Linked DNA regions of Homo sapiens: regions 1, 2 and 3 are each linked to region 4. The links come from fine-mapping of genetic effects on gene expression. A gene starts in region 4. Each other region holds a variant in brackets. All regions are shown on one strand. Distances are between the middles of the regions. Region 1 overlaps KAZN (kazrin, periplakin interacting protein). Region 2 overlaps KAZN (kazrin, periplakin interacting protein). Region 3 overlaps KAZN (kazrin, periplakin interacting protein). Region 4 holds the start of KAZN (kazrin, periplakin interacting protein).

Region 1 (5,461 bases), 290 kb after region 4:
AGAAAATGTCACAAGCCCACATCTGCCATTGATGGGAGAAAAGTATTATTGTCCCCCAGGAAGGAGCAGAAAATATCTCTGAGAAATAGCAATCTACCACAATGGGCTTGGAGTTTATAATTATTAACAAATAAGAGAACAAAAAGACCTAGGAATTATAAATATATACTAATATAGTCACCTAATGGAAAGTATAAAGCAGTAAAATGGATGCACTATAGCCATATAAAGCATGGGTGCATCTTGGAAATATAATATTGAGTGAAACTCCTTGTACCCAAATCCTTGTCTCAGGCTCTGCTTTGCAGGGGGAGCACAAACTGAGGCAGCTTCTGTGTCTGGTGCTTGTCCAGAGTGTACTTAGCACTCACTGTCTCCTAGGACAGAATTCCCCCTTGGGGTACAGCTCTAATTCTGGAAAAGTCTGCCCCTGCCTACCCTTCCTTCCTTAATTCCTGTCCAGCTTTCTCTTGGCAAACTACAGCCCACAGGCCAAATCCAGCCCACCAACCAAGAATGTTTGTACACTTTTAAATGGTTGAAAAAAATCAGAAGAATGTTTCACGATGTGAAATTTATACAAAATTCAAACTGCAGTGTCCATAAATAAAATGTTACTGGATCACAGCCTTGCCCATGTATTTATGAGCAGTTGGGACAGAGACCATTGAAAATATTTACTTCCTGGCCCTTTGCAGAAAAAGCCTGTCTTACATGACAAAATATGGCAACTAGCAGACTGTGTCGGGTAGTATCATCAGTGAAAAGAAGTACCTCGTACGCTCGAGCCAAACATCAGCCTCTTGAAGAGTTACAATGGGCTTTTTATGTCGTCAACCTGCAGAACACAGGAAGAGTTAGGGAGAAGCCTAGACCCAGGTCAGAATGCAGTTGGAGATGATTCGGGAAGCTTACCACAGGGACCCTGAGGGGGCTTCCCAGAACTTGCTGAACAGTCGCCTTTCCCTTCCCTGCTCTGCGAGTTTGGGTTTTGGGTAAGCAAGTCAAGCCTGGTCAGCTGGAATGCTCTGGCTGGTCAAGGCAATTGAAATTTCTCTTTAATGGAAGATTGAACAAAAAGCTCTTTCTGGATTGCCCCTGGGGAGAGGTTTCTCAGCTGTGTGCAAAGCCCATTTTCCTGATGGGAAATCTCTCCACTGCCCGAGAATGGCACGCAGACCCAGAATCTCCCGGGCACCAGTCCCCACCAGTGGGACATCGTCCCGCTGCAAAAAGTATAGGACAAAGAAACTGAATCTGTCAAACCTGTGACATCCCCTAAAAGCTGAACATTTTTAAAATTCCTGATAGCAAATTTAAATCTTTTTTTTTTCCTTTCTGCCCGCCTTTTAAAAAGATAGAGAAGGTTATTTTTAAAGGCAGGCCATAGATCAGGATTCTGAATGACGGGCGTGAATCAGAGTCCTCTTGTGGGCTTTCTCAGTATACAGACTTCCGGGCCCCACGGCGGATCCACTGATGAATCTCAGAATGGGACCCAAAGATCTGTATTTTTTTTTAATCTAGAGCTGGGGTCTTGCCGTGTTGCCCAGGCAGGTCTCAAACTCCTACGCTCAAGTAATCCTCCCACCTTAGCCTCCCAAAGTGCTGGGATTACAGGTATGAGCCACTGTGCCCAGCCAGGAATCTGGACTTTTTTTTTTTTTTTTTTTTTTTGAAGCAGTCTCGCTCTGTCGCCCAGGCTGGAGTGCAGTAGCCGGATCTCAGCTCACTGCAAGCTCTGCCTCCCGGGTTCACGCCATTCTCCTGCCTCAGCCTCCAGAGTAGCTGGGACTACAGGCACCCGTCACCACGCCCGGCTAACTTTTTTGTATTTTTAGTAGAGATGGAGTTTCACCGTGTTAGCCAGGATGGTCTCGATCTCCTGACCTCGTGATCCACCCGCCTCGGCCTCCCAAAGTGCTGGGATTACAGGTGTGAGCCACCGCGCCTGGCAGGAATCTGTATTTCTAAAAATTTATTGTTTCCATAGGTTTTTGGGGAACGGGCGGTGTCTGGTTACATGAGTACGTTCTTTAGTGGTGATTTGTGAGATTTTGGTGCACCCATCACCATAGCAGTATACGCTGAACCCAATTTGTAGTCTTTTATCCCTCACCCCCTTCCCACCCTTTACCCTGAGTCCCCAGAGTCCATTGTATCATTCTTATGCCTTTGCGTCCTCATAGCTTAGCTCCCACTTATGAGTGAGAACATACAATGTTTGGGTTTCCATTCCTGAGTTACTTCACTTAGAATAATAGTCTCCAATCCCATCCAGGTTGCTGCGAATGCCATTAACTTTCCTTTTTATGGCTGAGTAGTAAGGAATCTGTATTTTAACAAGCTTCCCAGCACTTCCCATGTGTGTGCTGGGCTAAAGCAGTTAAAGACCACTGCTTTAACACTGTATTTATTTACATGGGAAAATGTCCATGGAATACCGTTGAATTGTTTTTTCTAAAAGCAAGTTAGCCTGTGTCATGCTGATTTCTGGAAAATTCTATGTCATTATGTTTCTTTAGGAGAGAAGAAAAGCCAAAAAAGTATTAACGGGGGTAGTGGGATTTTACAGGTGATTTATACTTTTTTTTTCTTTGTACTTTCTCCAACTTGTTTGAATTTTATGCAATGAATAGCTATTTCTTCTAAAATGAAAAAGAAATCTCTGAAGTTATTTCCATGGTTGGGGGTGGGATGGGGCAGTAAGACGTGTCCATGAGCCTCCGTTAGTCGGCTCTGATTATGTGAGGCTTCTTGGTGTCAGGG[A/G]GTCTTACATCTGGCCCTGCCTGTTGCTATGACCCAGAAGCTACTGGAAGGTGTCAGGAAAGTTCAACATGCCCCCGTCCCTACCTCCTGCCTCTGGCCTCTGGTGTGGTGCAGACCCCTGAAGTAAATGCCTCCTCAAGGCAGCAGGCAGAGCCCAGATGGGATGGTGACCCTGCCGTCATCTGTGCTCCCATTCCTGGCCCAAATGGAGTCTCAAGGTCTCTAGGGAGCCCAGCCCAGCACCTGCCACAAACACTAAATTCTCTCAGAACTCCAGGAAGAAAACACTCCTGGCAGAAGAGAGTTCAGTCCCTGCCCCGGGGCTCGCCTCCAGCCATCTCTGATGACCCAGGTCCCAAGATGCCCTCCTGTGCCTTCATTATGGGAAGAGAGGCATCTGTCTTTCAGAGGCATCTCTCTCTCTTTTTCCCTCTCTCTCTCCTTTTTCCCCCTCCCCCCTGCTGTCTCTCTTTCTCTCTGTATCCTACAATCCCTGGATCATCTGAAGGCCTGTAATCTCAGGCTTGTTTCCCCCCAGACACCACCATGGAGCTTCTCCCTCCCCTGACAGCCCATGGGAGCCCACCCCACAGGTTTTTCTACAAGGTCTGCAAAGGACAGAGTGGAAGGGAAAGTGCTAGAAGGTTGCAGAGACACCCCAGAAGGTGTCTCCAGAGCAAGCTTTCGAATGACCTCTGTCTGCATCACTGCCCACCACCCCTGCCCATGGCTCAGGGTTCATAGGGGTGTGTGTTCATGTCCTCAGACTTGGGCAGGTGAGCCCAGGACACTTGTGCCACGGGGCTGTGGGGGCCTCCTGCAGGCTCCGGTGGCCTGGGCCCAGGCAAACCAGCCCACTCATCTTGTATCTCCAATACCTACACACACACACACAAAAGCTTCCAGAAGAAAGGAAAAAAGGAATGGACAGAGGAAGGACCAGTCTCCTAAGATTATTCCTCATTCATGCAGTCCTCCACAAATATTTACAAGCACCTACTACGTAGCAGGCACAATTCTAGGTGCTAGGATAGAGTGAACAGAATTAGACTGATTAGACTGGTCCCTACTGTCATAAGGCTGATGATCTACAGGAGGAAGTCAAATAATCATTTTTAAAAGGAAAATAGAGGCCAGTGTGGTGGCTCATGCCTGTAATCCCAGCACTTTGGGAGGCCGAGGCAGGTGGATCATGAGGTCAGGAGTTCGAGACCAACCAGACCAACATGGTGAAACCCTGTCTCTACTAAAAATGCGAAATGTAGCTGGGCGTGGTGGCTCGTGCCTGTAATCCCAGCCACTTGGGAGGCTGAGGCAGAAGAATCTCTGGAGCCCAGGAGGCAGAGGTTTCAGTGAGCAGAGATCGCACCATTGCACTCCAGCCTGGGCAACAGAGCGAGACTTTGTTTCAAAAAAAAAGAAAAAGAAAATAGAAATGGCCCCTGGGAGAGGAGCTCCACAGGAGAGGCAGATGGCCCTTTGACCTGCTCAGAGAAGTAGGTCACGGGGGCTTCTCCAGGGAGCAAAGCCCTTGCTGATGCTGAAAGATGAGTGAGAGGAAGAGCGCTCGCTGAGACCCCCATCTTCCCTTCCTCCACACCCTAACCTTGACTGATGGCCCCCTCGCCTTTACTGCTACTGCTCTCCCTACAGGCTGGGGAAGGAGAGAATTGGAAAATCTCCTTCTGACCATATTGTGTCTGGAGTTTTGTATCACCCTTGGTCTCAGACCCTGAGGCCAGAAAGCCACAAAGGGTCAGAGGTCAGAGTGGGCAGAATCAATCTGTGCCCGCTTCAGCCTATGTTTAAGGTACAAGGATCATTTGAAAAGTCCCTTTCACAAGGGAGGCACCCTCTGAACATAAAAGTCTTGCCCCAGCTCAGGAGCAGACAGACTTGCTTACTGGGACGTCTCAAAACTTGTGCAAATGACAAGTTCATTTTTAGCCGAAAAGAAGACACATCTGAAATATTGATGTGGCAGCCGGAGCCCGGCTCCAGACCCAGCTACAAAGGGAGGTGCTAGTTGATGAAGAGTATAATTAATCAGCACTTAGGGACCTCTGGCTGCTGATTTCAAGCTAACTGTCCCCCAAATCCACTTCTCTGACCCACCAGAGCCCAGGGTGCTGCCACTCAAAGCATCACAGTACGTGAATCTAATTGCAAACCTCCTGCCTGCCATCACGCCCATCTCCCCTGCCCAGCTCTGCCACCATCTCCCCTCCCTAGCTCACCCCCATCTCCCCCGCTCCAGCCTACAGTTTCTGCCGCAGCCTCGCCTGCCTGACCCGACAGATGGCTCCTCCTGCATCCTCCATCCCTGCTTTGCCATTTGCTGTTCCTTCTCCTCCTTCAGCACCTGGCTCACTAACTCCCGCTTTATAACTCACTCCCAATCAGCTGTGCAATCCCAGAAAAATTTCTGAATCACTTTGTGCCTCAGTTTCCCCATTTACAGAAATGGGGAAATGGTAACAGTCCTCACTGTGTTAGGGTCCCTGGGAAGACTGAATGTGTTAGGGACGTCAAGGGTGTAGAGTGCCTCATGGCACGTGACACTTGCCCTGCAGGCGTTAACTGTCGATGTGGCACATCTTTCCAGCTCATCTCAAGCATCACCTCCTCCTGGAGCCTTCCCGGCCTCTCAGTCTGAGTTAGGGTCACTTAATTGCTGATTCGCAGTCCTTGC
Region 2 (5,461 bases), 270 kb after region 4:
ATCTCCTCAATGAGATCTTTCCCCGTCCAAAATGGATTGGAATGTGTGAGAGGAAGCTAGCTACTCAACACTGGATGCAAAGATTCAGGCAGGGGTGGAATGGGGACCTTCTACCTCTGCCTCTTGCCCAAGGTCAGGGACACCGTTCTCACCACTAGACAAACTTCCCATCTGGAGGCACCAAGAGGAAGAGACTTTTCCAGAGAAATGTAGCTGCGGCTCCTCCCCAGTATGAAAATAGATCGCCCTGGGACTGGAGTAGTTAATGAAGATGATAATTAGAATTGCTTATTAGGACCTGTCTTCTGAAGTTCATTTGTGCTTTTAATAGAATCTACAACACATCTGCTTAGCAGAGATGACAGATCTTCCTGATTTGGTGTATTTTAAGACAAGATCTTTGCGCCCTGGCTTCTCCTGGTCTCCCTCCTCCCCCATGTCTGCCATCTGCTGCTGCGGTGACCTTCCCTCATGGCAGAAGCCTGGAGACTGCAACCAGAAAACACCCTTCTTCTTGCCAGGGGACCCCCTCCACCAAAAGCCAGAGAGACGTCTCATCTCTTTCTGAGGAATAGCAATCCCTTCTACGACCACCCTCCCCCTTGCTCTCCAGCCATCCTGCCTGTACTGGGTTGGATTATGTGTGCCCTCATCCCAAATTCATGTCTACCTGGAATGATAGAACATGACCTTATTTGAAAACAAGATCTCTGTGGTTATAACTAGTCAAGTTAAGATTTACTGGAATAGGGTGAGCCCTAATCCCAAGGTCTGATGTCCTGGTAAGAAGGCCACGTGGATACACAGGGAGGAGGCCGTGGGACCACAGAGGCAGAGATTGGAGTGAGGCAGCCACAAGCCAAGGAGTGCCAAGAAACCACCAGAAGCTGGGAGGAGGCAGGAAAGATTCTCTCCTGAAGCCTTCAGAGGGAGCACAGCCCTGCCGACACCTCGATCCCAGCCATCTAGCCCCTAGAACTGCAAGATGATACATTTCCGTTGTTCTGAGCCATCTGCTTTGTGGCACTTTGTTATAGCAGCCCTGGGAAAGTTTTTTTCAGCTTCTCAAACTTGCCGAGCTCTCTCCCAATTCCATGCCCTTTGCACCTGCTGTTCCCTCTGCCTGGAACTCTCTTTCAGCTTCCCCTCCCCACTCAGCTCTTCTCCTGTCCCATCCCCACATCACCTGTCCAACCCCTACTTTAGAGCGCTTTGCACATAGATGACTATGCAATGAATTACCTCACCGAAAGCAGGTGACCTGTACAGAAAGCAAGCATCCCGATCTCCCTGAGTTTTGGCGAGAGCCCCTTCCTCAGTCCCATAAGCTCCTGGTCAAGGTCTATGCCCATCTTGTCATCCTTCTGTCCCTGGAGCCTGGCATGCAGTTAACATACAAGAATTTGTGGAAGGGTCTGGCACAGTGGCTCACACCTGTAATCCCAGCACTTTGGGAGGCCAAGGCAGGAGGAGTGTTTGAATCCAGGAGTTCAAGACCAGCTGGGCAACATCTTTTGCCCCCGTCTCTGCCAAAAATAAAAAATGAACTGGGCATGGTGGCATGTACCTGTAATCCCAGCTGCTCAGAAAGCTGAGGTAGGAGGATCCCTTGAGCCCAGGAGGTTGAGGCTGCAGTGAGCTGTGATTGTGCCACTGCACTCCAGCCTGGGTGACAGACTGAGACTGTGTCTCTTAAAAAAAAAAAATGTTGAAGGATAATACCATTGATCCTACAATTGCTAGACCCAAATGAATCCAAAGGTCCTTCCAGCCCTTCCAAGACCTTGGGCCTCACTCCATGAGCATCCGGACACCTAATCTGAGGCCCCAGGCATGGAATCTGTGCTGGCCTGAGCTGTGGGGAGACCCTGGTCTATGGACACCTCTTGAGATCAGTGGAGATACACAATAATGGAGAATGCTGTTATTGTCATGGCATAAATTTGGATTGGAGAAGACAGAAAAGAAGCAGGATGCTAAGTGAGGCTGGCCACGCCCCTGCCTCCCTGATGGACTGCTGACCTTGCAATGCCCTTCTCTTGAATCCCAAGTTCGGGCTCGTTTTTTCCAGGCCTCCTCTGCTACAATGCTTGGCCAAGGCCCAGCCAGGGCCCTCCCTGTGCAGGGGAGCAGCCACGTTCAGGGCCCTGTGATCAATGGAGCGTGGAGGCCTCTCGGAGTCCTTTGCTCCCCTCTCCCTCCTCTTTTGCCTTGAAGGTCTGTTGTTTTGTGAGATCTGCGAGAGTGGGGAGAGTGGGGAGATTTATTTTGCACTGAGGCTGTGAGTGGGCTGAGAGAGAAGCAGAGGACAAAAACTGCACTAGACTTAGACCAGGCACCAAAATAGAAAGCCCAAGACCATTGTATTCCCCCGGGACCTGACTCTGGCCATGGTGCTGATGATAGAGTTACCGTTGGGTTCAGGGATGGTGCATCCTCCAGCTGGGCTCCAGGTAAGACAGGCTTTTTGACTTCTCTGTGCCTGTTTCCAGCTCTGTGAAGTAGGAAAACTACTAGCTTCCATCTCGCAAGGACGCCGAGAGGATGAAATGACAGAGCACGTAGTTGTCCGTAGACTGATGTCAGGTGCTGCTGTTTGTGTTATTAATGACAACAGCAGTCATCCTATTCAGGTGCTTTTGCTAGGACTGTGACTTCTGTCTCTGCTTTACTCGGTGTCTTTGAAGACACCCCCCCCCCCACCCTGGGCATGGAGGCATTGGGGCAAAGGGCAGCAGGCAGGTCAGCTGGCATGGCCCCTCGTCTGGGGCTTGTCCCTGGCTATGTCCTCAGCTTTCCTGGGCTGAGCCAGTGATGTATATAAGGCTGTGGACTGCACTTGGATAGGTGGAGAGGAGACAGACATGACCTGGCTACAGGGAGGACAGCAGTGGGCAGGCACAGCCTCACATAAGCACAGCATTGCATAGGCAGGCATCGCATATGCAGGCATTGGATACACAGGCATCACAAACGTGGGCATCACACAGGCATGGCATCGCATAGCATGGCATCACATACGCACAGCATTGCATACACAGGCATCACATACGCACGGTATCACATACACAGGCATTGCATACACGGGCATCACATAGCACGGCATCACATACGCAGCCAT[C/T]GCATAGGCGGGCATCGCATAGGCAGGCATCAAATAGCACGCATCACATACGCAGGCATCGCATACGCAGGCATTGCAAACACATGGCATCACATACGCACAGCCAGGGCTGCGTCTGAGGCCACTGGAGGGGAACTGTTCTTAGACCCAATGGCTGTCTTTACTACTAATTGCTATTGCATCTATTGGGCAATTAGAGGGTACCAGGCTGTGGGCTTTCTAACACTTTCCTGGGATGGGAGCCATTTTATAGATGGGGAAACTGAGGCTCAGAGTTGGAGCAACTCATCTAGGGCCACACGTTACAAGACCTGGGATTTGAAACCAAGATTAGTGACTCCAGAGGCTGAAATCTTAACCACTTCCCCGTGGGCCCTTCTTGAAGTGAATGTCTAACCATTACCACTTTTCCACTGGGTGAACTGGAGTCTTGTAGACCCAGAACATCTGGGCAGACTTTGAGTTTGGGGAGGGGAATCTAGTAGGCTCCTCTGCAGCTGTCTTCATCTCTGCATGTCCTTCCAGAAATGGGGCCAAGAGGAGCCAGGCATGGTGGCGTGTGCCTGTAGTCCCAGCTACTAGGGAGGCTGGGGTGGGGGGATCTCTTGAGCCCAGGAACTCAAGGCTGCAGTGAGCTATGATCATGCCACTGCACTCCAGCCTGCACAACAGAATGAGACCCCAACTCTAAAAAACTTAATAGCTAAGTAAAAATAATAATAAATAATCCGAAATGGGGCCAAGATAAGAGAACTGAATCGGGGTTGGCGGGGGGGTGCATCTGTTCTACTCGGTGATTTTTCCCTTGTTGATCTGTGTCCCCCACTCCAGCTTGGGGGCCCCGGTGGTATTGTGGGTACCCACAAAATGCTAGTCAGGATGCCAGATTCCCCTTCTCTAGTTCCTGCTAGCACCTTGGGATGTGTCCTAGTGAGAACCGCAGACTTGCCAAAGCCATGACAGCTGGATCCTATTCTAGCCGCAGGTTGGGATCGAAGTTTAGTATTCCAGCTTCCACCATCCCCTTCCTGCCTGTCTTGACCCTTCCAGTTTGCTCCTTTAAATCTCCACTTCCCTTTTGCACAGTCTCAAGCTCTTCCAGGTTCTGAGGATTTTTTCTCACTTCTCAGGGTGAGCTCGCGACCTTTCATTGCCTTCCCTGTGTGAGCACAATTCAGGGGTCAGACTCTGGACTCTTTATGGAGCCTCAACGCAGGGGCTGTGACTGTATATTCTGCACAGCGAGGCTCTAATTACAGGCTGCATGCTGGAGACTAGTCATTTTGTGAGTCATTAGGATGTGTGGCTGGGGCTTTATAATATCTTTTGATGAGTTCTGTAATTTTTATATCTTCACCTATGCTAGCATTTTCAGTGAAGCAGAACAGGACAGTAGGGCTGGCAGATGTCACAGCCCCTGGGCTCTTTCTGGATCGGAATTGAAAGGGTCTTCTCCTCTGCACTCTGAGGAGAGAAATATTGATTCTGATTGGGTTCGAGGGGTTGAAAGCTGGCATGTGCCTCGTCTCTTGCTAATCAATATTCCAAAGCAGTGGTTGTGGGTAATGTTTGAGTACTTGCTTCTGTTCTCCTTCGTGTTGGCAAATTACAAGCTTTCAGGTGAGACTCCCTTCATTTTGCAGTGGCTGCGAGGAGCAGGTTTAATTAGCGCACAGACCTGCTGGAAAAATCCAGTGTTATTAAAAGCCTTGTTCCATGTGGTGGCTGCTGGGTTGTACCGGTCTCCTGCCCTCAGCCCCTTCCTTCCTGAAGCCACCCAACACCCACCCCGGCATTACTTTGCCATTAATCCCAAGGTATCCGGGGAAAAATGACAGAGAGGTAAGAAAAATCACATGGAAGGTAGAATGTCCAGATTTTTCCCCAATGAGATGAAAAACTCAGGGTCTCATCTCTGTGGAAAATCCCAGTATCTGTCCAGGAGCACTGGGCCTGGCCTTGACCTTGGCTTTGACCTTCAGACGACTGCTGGGGAGATTCCTTGAACATGGAGTCTAGGGCCTGGATACTGGGAAAAATCAGACCCTTCTACTCAAAACCAAAAGACCACAGGCTTTGGAGTTAAGACAGGGTGAAGGGTGAGTCCCAGCTCTGCTCCTCACTTGCTGTGTGACTTTGAACAAATGGCTTAACTTCTCTGGCCCTGTTTCCTCAACTGTTTTTTGTTTTTTGTGTGTTTGTATTGAGACAGAGTTTTGCTCTGTCGCCCAGGCTGGAGTGCAATGGCACAATCTTGGCTCATTGCAACCTCCACCTCCTGGGTACGAGTGATTCTCCCACCTCAGCCTCCAAGTAGCTGGGATTACAGGCATGCACTAC
Region 3 (5,461 bases), 280 kb after region 4:
AGGCTATTGCTGGCAGATAAACATCTAAATTCCTGCACTCCTGTATCAGAAGCTGAATTAGGGTGCAAGCGTGTGGGCACCAGTCCCTTAAATTACCCTTCTTTGGAAGGAATAATGGACTTGGAGTCAGAAGACTAGATTTCAAGACTAGCCTCTGCTTCATACTGACTGGGGGACTTCTCTGGGTTTGTTTTCTTGTCTGCAAAATGGGATATAATAAACTACTACTTTAGGGTGGTTATGGAGCAGTGCTGTCTGATAGAACTTCCTAGAACTTTCTATTTAATATGGTAGCCACTGGCCACATGTGGATATTAAGCAATTAACATATAGCTAGTGTGACTAAGGAACTGAATTTTTTATTTTATTTAATTTCAATGAATTTAAATTCAAACAGCCACATATGGCTAACAGCAACCATATTGTACAGTGCAGTTTTAGATTATTCAATTGGATCATTACAGTTTGCTTTGTAAACTGTGAAGTGCTATAAGGGAATATTCATTGCATCCCTTAATTGAAAGCTCCAATGATGAAGCCAGGTACTGTGTGAATAAGTCTTGCTCATGCTCATAATTATTGTAACCACTGATCTAAGTGGGGCCTGAAATCCTTAAAATGGTCTTATTTCTGGACATCTCCCTTCACATTTGAAGGATTAATATAATGGATCTCTCATGAACCTATACAGAATCCCAGTAAGAAATTATTGCATGGATGGATGGTTCGATGGATGGATGGACAAGTGGACAGATGAATGGATAGGTGGATGGATGGATGGACGTACAGATGGATGGGTGGAAGGACAAATGGATGGATGTACAGACGGATACATAGATGAATAGATGGGTGGATGGATGGGTGAATGGATATATGGATAAATGGATGGTTGGGTGGATGGATGGATGGATGGATAGATGGATGGATGGATGGATGGATGGATGGAAAGATGAGTAGAAGAACATATAGAAGGATACATGGATGGATGGATGGATGGATGGGTGGGTGGATAGATAGATGAATCGGTGGGTGGATGGATGGATGGGTGGATGGATGGATGGATGGAAGGATGGATGGATGGACAGATAGATGAATGGATGGGTGGATGGATGGATGGATGGAAGGATGGATGGATGGACAGATAGATGAATGGATGGGTGGATGGATTCATCCATTCATTCCTTCTGTCACCTGCTATGCACTAGGCATTATTCAAGTAGTTAGGGATAGAATAATAACACAGACAAAGCTCCTGCTTTCAGAAAGACTGTATTCTAAAGGGGAGAGTCAGATGTTCAAGAAGAAAACAAATAGCATAAAGAATTTCTAGTAGCAGTAAGCACTATGAAGGAAAATAAAGTGGGGAAGAGGGATGCAGAATAATGGGGCTGCTGTTTCACATAGGGTGGTCTCTTTGGTAAAGCAGCATTTGAGAAAGCCTTGAGGGAAGGGAGGAAGTGAGCTATGCAGAGATCTGAGGGAAAAGCAGAGAGAACAGAAGAAGGCTAGCATGGCTAAACCAGAGTGTGGGAGGAGAGGAAATGTAAAAGGAGAGGAGGTCAGAGGGAGCCAGGGGCCTTTCAGGCTTTTGGAAGACTTTGCTTTCCTCTCAGTGAAATGAGAAGCCAGTGGTGGGCTTTGAGAAGAGGAGGGATTGGATCTGACATATATTTATGTTGTGTTGAAAATAGACTCTAGGGAGGAAAGGCAGGTGCCGGAGACAAATAAGGAAGCTACTGCAATCATCTAGGCATGAGTTTGTGGTGGCTGGGACCAGGGAGAGAGCAGTGCAAAGTGGGGCAAAGTGGCGAGATTCAGTATCTAGTTCAAAGGTAGAGCCAGCAGAACTGACGTGGTGGATGTGGTGGGTAGGAGAAAAAGGAGAAGTCCAGAATGATTCCAGAGATGCACCCTTGAGTAACTGGAAGGAAAGCACTTGTCATTTCTTGAAATAGAGAAGACAGGGGCAGGAGCGAGTTTAGAGGGGGTGGGCCAGGAGGAAATCAGGAGCTCAGTTTGGAGTATGCTAGGTTAGAGATGTCTATTAATCATCTGAGAGTTGACTGTCCAAATTTCAAGGGAGAGGACAGGGCTGGTCATATCCATTTGGGAATCATCAGCATATACAGATGATATTTAAAGCCACGATACCAGACAAGTGAGTACAGATAGAGAATCCAAGGATTGAGCTCTGGAGTCCTCCAACATTTGGAGGTCGGAAGGGGGAAGAGGATCCAACAAAGGCTACTGAAAAGGAACAGCTGGTGAGGTAGGAAGAAACCAGTAGAGAAGTGACATGTGTCCGGAAGAGAGTGTTCAACTGTTAGATGCTGCTGACAGATTAAGTAAGAGGGGCTGGAAAGGTGACCACTGGATTTAATAATGTCATTGGTGACCTTGAGTTGTTTCAGAGGAATGGTGGCATGAATCGCTAGCTAGCTGGCTGA[C/CTGGATGGATGGA]TGGATGGATGGATGGATGGATGGATGGATGGATGGATGGATGGATGGATGGACAGATGGATGGAAGGCTAACTTAACTACTGCAGCTAACTTAACTACTGCAGGTAACTGCACCATCTTGTCACCTGTGACAGCAATTAAGCAACTGTTGCCTGACACTCCGTGTGCCAGAACCAAAAGCTGTCAAAACCAATCTCCTTCTCCATTCACCCAACTTTTTGGATCCAGCCCAGAAATCCTGGTGTGACCTGTGTTTGCTATAAGATGAGAATCTTGACATCTTCTGGTTTGATTATCCTTCTCTGGATTACCCATAATGCTCTTGGTCGAATGTTTCCCCTTTTAAGGTTTGAGAAGGGAAAGGAAAGGAAGAAAATGAGAGGAAAAAAAACTAACTCTGGGATCCTAGACTTACTTGGTTTTGTATTTCCATTTGCCAAACTGATGCTTTGCCAAATCTCCCTTCCTTTCTGGAAGAGCAGATTTGCGCAGCCACCTACCTCTGCAAGTGGGGGTCCCTGGAGATTCCTCCATGTTAAAGCCAAATGAGGAAAGGTCTCAGATATATCTGTAAATTTGTGGCCAGGTGCGGTGGCTCACACCTGTAATCCCAGCACTTTGGGAGGCTGAGGCAAGCAGATCACCTGAGATTGGGAGTTCAAGACCAGCCTGACCAACATGGAGAAACCCCGTCTCTACTAAAAATACAAAATTATCCCGGCATGATGGTGCATGCCTGTAATCCCGGCTACTCAGGAGGCTGAGGCAGGAGAATCACTTGAACCCGGGAGGCAGAGGTTGCAGTGGGCCGAGATCATGCCATTGCACTCCATCCTGGGCAACAAGAGTGAAACTCTGTCTCAAAAAAAAAAAAAAAAAAAAAAAATTGTAAGACATTTTATGTAAATGTTATTTATCTTTTTATGGGTTTATTTGGTTGTTGTTATCATTTATTGGGTGAGCATGGAAGCTGAACTCTTGTCTTCCCTGCCTTGCATTGTCCTTAATTTATTAAAAAAAAAAAAAAAGAAAAAAGAAAAAAAAACTATTTTCAATGAAGCCATTTCTTCCTTCTCCTAATAGTGAAAATCACTGGATTCTTAGGAGGCATGAGGCACAGACCAGGCTTCCTACGCAGGATGTGCTGGGGTCTGCTCCAGGCTCCTGAGAGCCAATAGTTACATTTTCAGGAATGTTATAAGCCTCATACTGGTGGCTTAAAATTGATGATGAGAGTACGTACACCATGGAAACTGGCAATGACTACAAATCAGGGCTCCTTCGCCCAACCCTCCACAGTTGATTGTTAAACACTTGCCAGTACACCACTGCCTGTTGCCTTCACTATCAAGAAAGAGGTTTTCTGAGATCAATCTGAAGTGTGACCTCGGGAATTTCCTGCTTTCCTGGAAGGGGGTAGATTTCAGCCCAGGCATGACTGCCACATCAACAGAGATGCTCGGGAAGATGTGTTGCCCTGCAAACTTTCACAGTTGACACCCCCTGCTTCAAGCTCTGTGTGATGACAGTGAAGTGAGAGTGAGCCGCTCCTCTGAATGGAGAGATTAAAAGCAGTTGTTTGACTGAGGCAAGGAGGAAGAAGAAAGCCCAGACAAGCCAAGTGGGACTGTGATCTTAACAGATGTTAGGATCTTACCTCATTAGGGCACCTCAGAGGCTTGCCGCGGAGGTGAGAAACAATAGATGAGGTGATGGCTTTATGGAATTGTCAGTGTTATCAGTTCCCTGTCCTCAATCTGATCTGCACAATCACAGCCTCTGTTGTCACCTGTCCAATTTCCAATCTTGTGGTAGCTGCGTTTATTACATGCGCAAATGCAGCCAGCAGCCAGAATGACATTAGCGATAGTAGCTGCTGTGGGCTCATTATTATGCAAGCCAGGAAAGGAACTCTAGGCAGGTGATTAAACATGCCTTTGGCAACAGAGCAAAGAACAGATGCTTGGGAGGACACACCTTGAAATTGCAGGTAGGAACCTGGGTTTAGGACCATCACTCCTGTGCAGGTCTTTGCAGGGGAAGCAGACACAGCGTTGTGTAGTAGTTAAGTGGAGGGAGTGGGGTCTGGAGCTGGACTGCCTGGATTCAAGTCTCACTCTGCCCCTTACCAGCTCTGTGACCTTGAGTATGCTTCCCACCTTCTCTGTTTACATTAGTCTGCCCATCTCTAAAATAGGATAATGATGCTAATGATAGTACCAAAAATTGGTATGCTTTTGAGGATCCATGAGTAATCTACGTAAAACACTTAAAGTGATGCCTGTCACACAGAGCTAATAAATGTTAGCTGTTATTATTCTCCCTCCAGACCTTTTTGTAGATAGGCATGTCTAGATTTGGGGAAGTCTTGTCTTACCACTTAGAATACTGCAAAGTCATCTACTTTGACATGAACTAAAGAAAGTAAGAAAGCCTTTGGGCAAGTTGAAACCAACTTGTATTAGTCAGACATTTTTGAGTTTCAGGTGACAGAAATTCAACCCAAACTGTCTTAAGCCAAATATATACATACATGTAGAGATGCAAAAGCTACTGGTTCTGGTGATTCAAAATACCAGGGTTGATCTTCCAGTCATGGCTGGTTCCAGGGACTTGAAAATGCCAGTGTGGATCCTTCAGGCATGACTGGCTCCAGGAGCTCAAGGGGTGTTCCCCGCACTCTCTCGGACTCTCTTGGACTCTCTTCTCACCACCAATCTCGTGGCTCTGTCTCCCGTTACTCCCTTTGTGTATTGGCCCCATTGTCTTCTACTGAAGACACCATCCTCCATATGGCTGGGGAAGATGACCTCAAACATCATCCTTATTGCTAAGGATCGCCAAGAGAAAACATATTTTCTAGAAGTTCCAGAAAAAGTCTGATTGGTTCACCTTTGGTTACATGCATATTTCTGATCCAATCACAATGGCCATGGGGATAGGGTGCATGATAGACATGCATCATGGGCCAATCCCTGAGCTGAAAGATAGGCATATGGGGTCAGCTCTGCCCA
Region 4 (5,461 bases):
GTCACCTCCGGAGGAGCGGTGGTAAAGCCTGGGGATAAGAAACGTAGACCCGGCCGAGCGCTGTGGCTCACGCCTGCAATCCCAGCACTTTGGGAGGCCGAGGCAGGTGGATTGCTTGAGGTCAGGAGTTCGAGACCAACCTGGCCAACCTGGTGAAACCCTGTCTCTACTAAAAATACAAAAAAAAATTAGAGGGGTGTGGAGGCCTGCACCTGTAATCGCAACTACTCAGGAGGCTGAGGCAGACAATCCCTTGAACCCAGGAGGCGGAGGTTGCAGTGAGCTGAGATGGCGCCACTGCACTCCAGCCTGGGCGACAGAGCAAGACTGCGTCTCAAAAAAAAAAAAAAAAAAGAAAAAGAAAAAGAAAGAAAAAAGAAAGGTAGACCTTTTTGGTTTAAATCAAGTATACCCGCAGAGGCTAATTGATTGCAGACTTTCTATCTAAGATCTAGTCCTTTGGTGTGTGGGTGAACATAAGGACACACAACTGGAAAAAGCCCCTTTTTTTCATGTTAGGAAAAAAAACTCTCAAAAAATAAAATTCTTAAAATCCTAGGAGGCACCCCAGGAGTTTCTAAAGCAGCTTCTTGAAACCTCAAAAATAGAGGGATGAGAAGGGGCTCAAGGAATGAGTCTTTTCTTTTCTCCTTATTAGATTTTTTTGTTTTGATTTGATTTGAAGATTCCGGTGTGTGGGAATAATCTCACTGAAGAGCAAAATGAGTAACACTGGGTCACTTTGTTTACTACACAAACACACTCACACGCATTCATTTACAGAACACTTACTACGGGCTAGGGCGGCAAGGACGCAAAGATGAATGACATAAAAAGCCGGATAACCCTCCTTCCCCCACCCACAAGTTCCCAGTGAAGTGGGAGAGAGACATATAAACAGATAAATTACTGTTTCTTCTGCTGAGTGCTATACCAGAGGTGTGAGTGCACGCACACGTGTGCGCACACACACACACACACACACACACACACGGCCCTCTAAATAGAGCTACTCTTAACTGTTTGCTCAGAAGCCCTAGTTCCAAAACATTCCCATCCTCTCTATTTGTGTATTTGCATATATGACTTTTTGATTGAGGTAAAATTTACATAACATGAAATTAAGCCCTTTAAAGTGAACAATTCAATGGCACTTAGTACATTCACCGTGTTGTGCCACCACCACCTCTGTCTAGTTCTAAAACATTTTCATCAGTCAGCACAAAGTAACACCCGGCACCTATTAAGCAGTTACTTCTCATTCTTCCCTCCCCACAGCCCCTGACAAACACCAATCTGCTTCCTGTTTCATGGATTTATTTATTCTGGATATTTCATATAAATTGAATCGTATAATATGTGACCTTCTATGTCGGGCTTCTTTCAACTAACATAATGTTTTGGAGCTTCATCCACGTAGTAGTAGCATGTATCAGTACTCTTCACGGCTGAGTAATATTCCATTGCATACTGCAATTTGTTCATCCAATCATCTGTTGATGGACATTTGGGTTATTTCTGCCTTCTGGCTACTAATGAACAGTGCTGCTATGAACATTCATGTACAAATTTTTGTTTGGATATTTGTTTTGGACATATACCTAGGAGTGGATTTGCTGGGTCGTATGGTAATCCTATGTTTAACTGTTCAAGGAACTGCTAATATGTTTTCCACAATGGCTGCACCACGGCATCCCCCTTTTCAAGACCCACACAGCTCTGTAGTTTTGATGCTCTCCCCATAACGTAACTGAAAGACTGCAAAGAACTGAATCCTGGTTTGCAGATACACTAAGCAGTTCTAAGTGCCTTGGTTGGTCCAGTTGGTAAGAACTTGTGTTAATGAGGTTAAGGTCAGGGTTCGATCCCCGAACTGACCCATTAGCTGAGCAGAGCGGACAGAGTGAAGAATTGTGTCTTCCTGCCACATGCTCCACCATCAAATCCTGCCCTCTTGCAAAAGCTTGTTAGTGGTCACAGGGGAATGGAGCAAGACTGTTTTTATGGTTCCACAGAAAAGGGGGGAGAAATCTATCATCCAAGGCCTCCTGAAGGCGCAGCAGGAGGAACTTGCAATCAGATGATTACTTTCTTCCAGTCCCGCTGTCACCTGGTTTCTGCGGGCCCCTTAAGTAAATTGCTTAACCCTATGCAGAGCCTCAGTTTCCTTATCCCTAAAATGGGAATAATAATCCTCACTCACAAGAGATAAGAATGCATATAAAAGCACTCTACACGCAGTTTTTGCTTGGTTCTTATGGGCTTCCTGTAAGAACCTGAAGGGTGGGCAGCCTCATTTTTCCTCGCAGCACCCCACTGGCTTCTGCAATCTGCTCTTTGCTGCTCTCCGGAGGTTGACTGAGCTGGAATGATGGCGCCCTGTTGACCAGAGGGTTGCTGGCTGTTTTAAATTGTCCTATTTGCATGGAATGAAGTTTGCTATGGTAACAAGGTCTGGTGGCTGGAATCCAGGGCCCCAGTGAAAAATGCAAAGCCTGTGGTCTGGGAGAGAAAGAGGAGCTGGAGAGGGCATATCAACGTCAGGTTACCTCAGTTCTTCTGTGAAGAGGGGATGGGTAAACTGAGGCAGCAGGGCTCAACTCTTCTGCTCCCAGTAGAAGAAAGGGAAGAAGCCCCATCGACGCCTTCCTTCTTATCTCTCAACCTCATCTCTGTCCCCGCCAATATTCAGCCCGGCTAAGAAGCTTAGGAGCTGGCTAAGGCTGCTCCTCCACCTGGATGCACACACAGGGCTAGGGCTGTGGAGAGGCGGGAGCACCAGCGGCCCACGCCGAGGAAGATAGGCGCTCCCTCCTGGGGTGGGCAGCGCAGGTCTGGCCTGCGGGTGGGGGGTGGAGAGTGAGAGGCACGCGGGGCACCAGCTCAGCTCCCCTCTGGGGATTTCGTACTCGCAGTTTAAGGAACCGGTGGAGCACGAACTCCACTCCTGAGCTGGCGCAAGCGTCTCCCTTCCATGGAGATCCACCCCGGCTCCCCTCTGAGGCCCCCTTTCCAAGCACCCTCTCTTCCGAGCACCCAGCACCTCCCCAACCTTAGCACGGCTCGGGGCACCAGTTCTCCAGGGCGGGGGCTGCCCCACCGCTCAAGGGAGGGGACAGAGGGCCGGCCTCGGTCCAGGCGACCCCTGCCCCTCGCCAGGGGCGCCACCTTGGCCCCCTCCCGACTGCCGTCCGCCGCCTCCGCCCCCCCGGGGGGTGTGTCTCCGAAGTACGGGGGCGCGGGAGGCCAAGGGTGCCCCCAGCCTCCGACCGAGACCCCCTCCCGAGCCGGCGGCGAATGGTAGGCTCCATTTAAAGAGTGCCTGGTGGCGCGCGGTGTCCTTCTTGGAGCAGCTCTCGGCGCCCGCCCGCCGGGGTCTCGGCGATCGCTGCTCCTCCTCCTCCTTCTCCTCCTCTTTTTTCTCCTCCGCCTCCTCCCCCCGCCGCCTCGCCACCGCCGCGGCTAGGGCTGGAGGCGCCGCTGTCATTCCTGTGCCGGAGGAACCGGCGCTGCCGGTGCCTGGGGGTCGGGGCGCGGGCGAAGCCGGGCCGCGGAGGACACAACAGGTAGAGCCGGGGGTGCCCGGCCGCGCGCCCCCCGCGCATCATGCAGCTCTTTGTCACCTCTCTCGCCCCCAGGCCAAAATCCTGAGCATGATGGAAGACAATAAGCAGCTCGCGCTCCGCATCGATGGGGCGGTCCAGTCGGCCAGCCAGGAGGTGACCAACCTGCGAGCCGAACTCACGGCCACCAACCGGAGACTGGCGGAACTGAGCGGCGGCGGCGGCCCCGGCCCGGGCCCGGGAGCCGCGGCCAGCGCCTCGGCGGCGGGGGACTCGGCGGCGACGAACATGGAGAACCCCCAGCTTGGAGCGCAAGGTAGGATCGCCCCGGCGCCCAGGGCGGAGGAAGGCGAGCAGAGCACGCCCGGCCTCGGAGGTGGCCGGGGACCCGGGGTCCCCCACACCCGGGGCGAAATCGCTTTGCATTCTGGCTTGTAACCCTTTCCGCCCGGCGGTGGCCACCGCTGCTCTCCGGCTGGGAGTTGCAGGCTGCTGTCATTCACGAAAACCCGAGCGCAGTGTGCACGGGGTCACACGGTCACACCGGCCCCGGCCAGCCTGAGCGAGGCGCAGCCGGCGGGTCCCTTCCGGCATCAGAAAGTGCCCTTTCCGTGGCACCAGCCCCCTAGCTCCGTGCAAACTTTTCATGCCGGGGCCTTTTCCCCACCCCCCGCAGGGGTGAATGGCACAGTTCCCCCCACTTCCTTAGGCTCCTTCCCAGAGAGAGCTCCGGGCTCTGCCGCCGTGGTTGGGATAGAGGATTGCACTGCTGTGCACTTTTCTCCGCGGATGCCAAATCCCTTGGCTCAGTTGCATCTGGACTTTATTTTCTTCTCATTTGAGGTCTCTCAGGCATTGGAATCTATAGATGCAACAGTAGATGCTCAGCTCAGCAGGGAGTTTAAATTTCCGCAAATATAAACACCGAGAGCACTTTCCAGGGGGATACTGTAGACCTCAAAGGTTGAGCGGTAGAGAAATGAAGGCTTAGGGTGGTGGGCTGCAGGGAGCCCGTTTGAAGGGACTCTGCGGTTTAGAGAAGAGGAAGAAAAAGACAGTTGGTTTGTGTTCACATTGACAGAGATTAAGCTCTGAAACCCCCTGCAAGACATAAAGGCGGATGGGGCATTCCCTAAAATGTACTGTTTGGTTTCTGTGACTTAGAAAGTAAAAGGGTAAGCAGGCTTTGGGGGATTTTTTTTTTCTTTTTGCCTAATTGCCCTTTAAGAAACAGTATCACTGGTTATTAATATCATTTGAATTGCAAATTAAACTGCTGAAATCCAGAACAGGACAGAAACAAATCTCCAGTCCATGAGGTCCACTTGTCTAAATATGTCACTTGAAGTGCAAGGTACCAATTGCTCAGTGGCTCAAAATGATTTTCTGGTTCTGTTGTCATTTCAAGAGCTTCTCTTGAGGGTTGAGAGAGTCTGTTTTCCTAAGAATCTGGTTCTCTCCATCAGTCTCTGTTTCCACCTTATCTTCCTGGGAAGGTGTGCTTTCTTTGAGGTGAGATGTGAAGCCTGCCCACGTGCAGTTTTATGTCGAATTCCAAGTCAGATCTTAACTTGGTACTCCCGGAGCCTGTTGGAAGTCTTAGGAATTGGGGGGAGTACTTTGGTAAGGAAGTAGCCATGACGTAATGGTGAGAAGGTGTTGTGGTCCTAGTGCTTGCTGCAAGCTTGACATGTGGTTATTCTTGTCATCCTTGCAATGTCATTGTGTGCGAAAGAACATTCTCCACTGGAACCTGTGCAAAAAAAAAAAAAAAAAAAAAAGACAGACTGCAAGGTAATGCTTCACTTTTTATAGGCAGAGGCTCTGCTAACATTAAAGAAATAGCTAAGAACTGGCATTTTGCTAAGAATCAAAAGCTGTATAGTAAAGGACACTGA

What was found. PIP is the estimated chance that this variant, and not a neighbour inherited with it, causes the effect.
Region 1: its variant is fine-mapped to the expression of KAZN in whole blood (INTERVAL, PIP above 0.99).
Region 2: its variant is fine-mapped to the expression of KAZN in whole blood (TOPMed, PIP above 0.99).
Region 3: its variant is fine-mapped to the expression of KAZN in whole blood (INTERVAL, PIP above 0.99).

Annotation. Positions count from the first base shown.
Region 1 is chr1:14,889,187-14,894,647 of GRCh38, forward strand. The region is part of intron 1 of KAZN (kazrin, periplakin interacting protein); the gene reads left to right. It overlaps LOC107985469 (a long non-coding RNA gene), which reads right to left. Exons shown (of 3, transcript XR_001737616.2): 2 at 775-838. Among named protein-coding and RNA genes, the nearest start is that of TMEM51-AS1, 260 kb to the right of the region's middle. RefSeq lists an enhancer at 4,638-5,461. The variant A/G (reference allele first, on the strand shown) is at 2,770.
Region 2 is chr1:14,865,035-14,870,495 of GRCh38, forward strand. All of the region lies in intron 1 of KAZN (kazrin, periplakin interacting protein), which reads left to right. Among named protein-coding and RNA genes, the nearest start is that of KAZN, 270 kb to the left of the region's middle. RefSeq lists an enhancer at 3,071-3,571. The variant C/T (reference allele first, on the strand shown) is at 3,122.
Region 3 is chr1:14,872,023-14,877,483 of GRCh38, forward strand. The region is part of intron 1 of KAZN (kazrin, periplakin interacting protein); the gene reads left to right. Among named protein-coding and RNA genes, the nearest start is that of KAZN, 280 kb to the left of the region's middle. The variant C/CTGGATGGATGGA (reference allele first, on the strand shown) is at 2,448.
Region 4 is chr1:14,595,345-14,600,805 of GRCh38, forward strand. It overlaps KAZN (kazrin, periplakin interacting protein), which reads left to right and starts at 3,341. Exons shown (of 15, transcript NM_201628.3): 1 at 3,341-3,879. The coding sequence starts at 3,654. RefSeq lists a silencer at 4,008-4,167.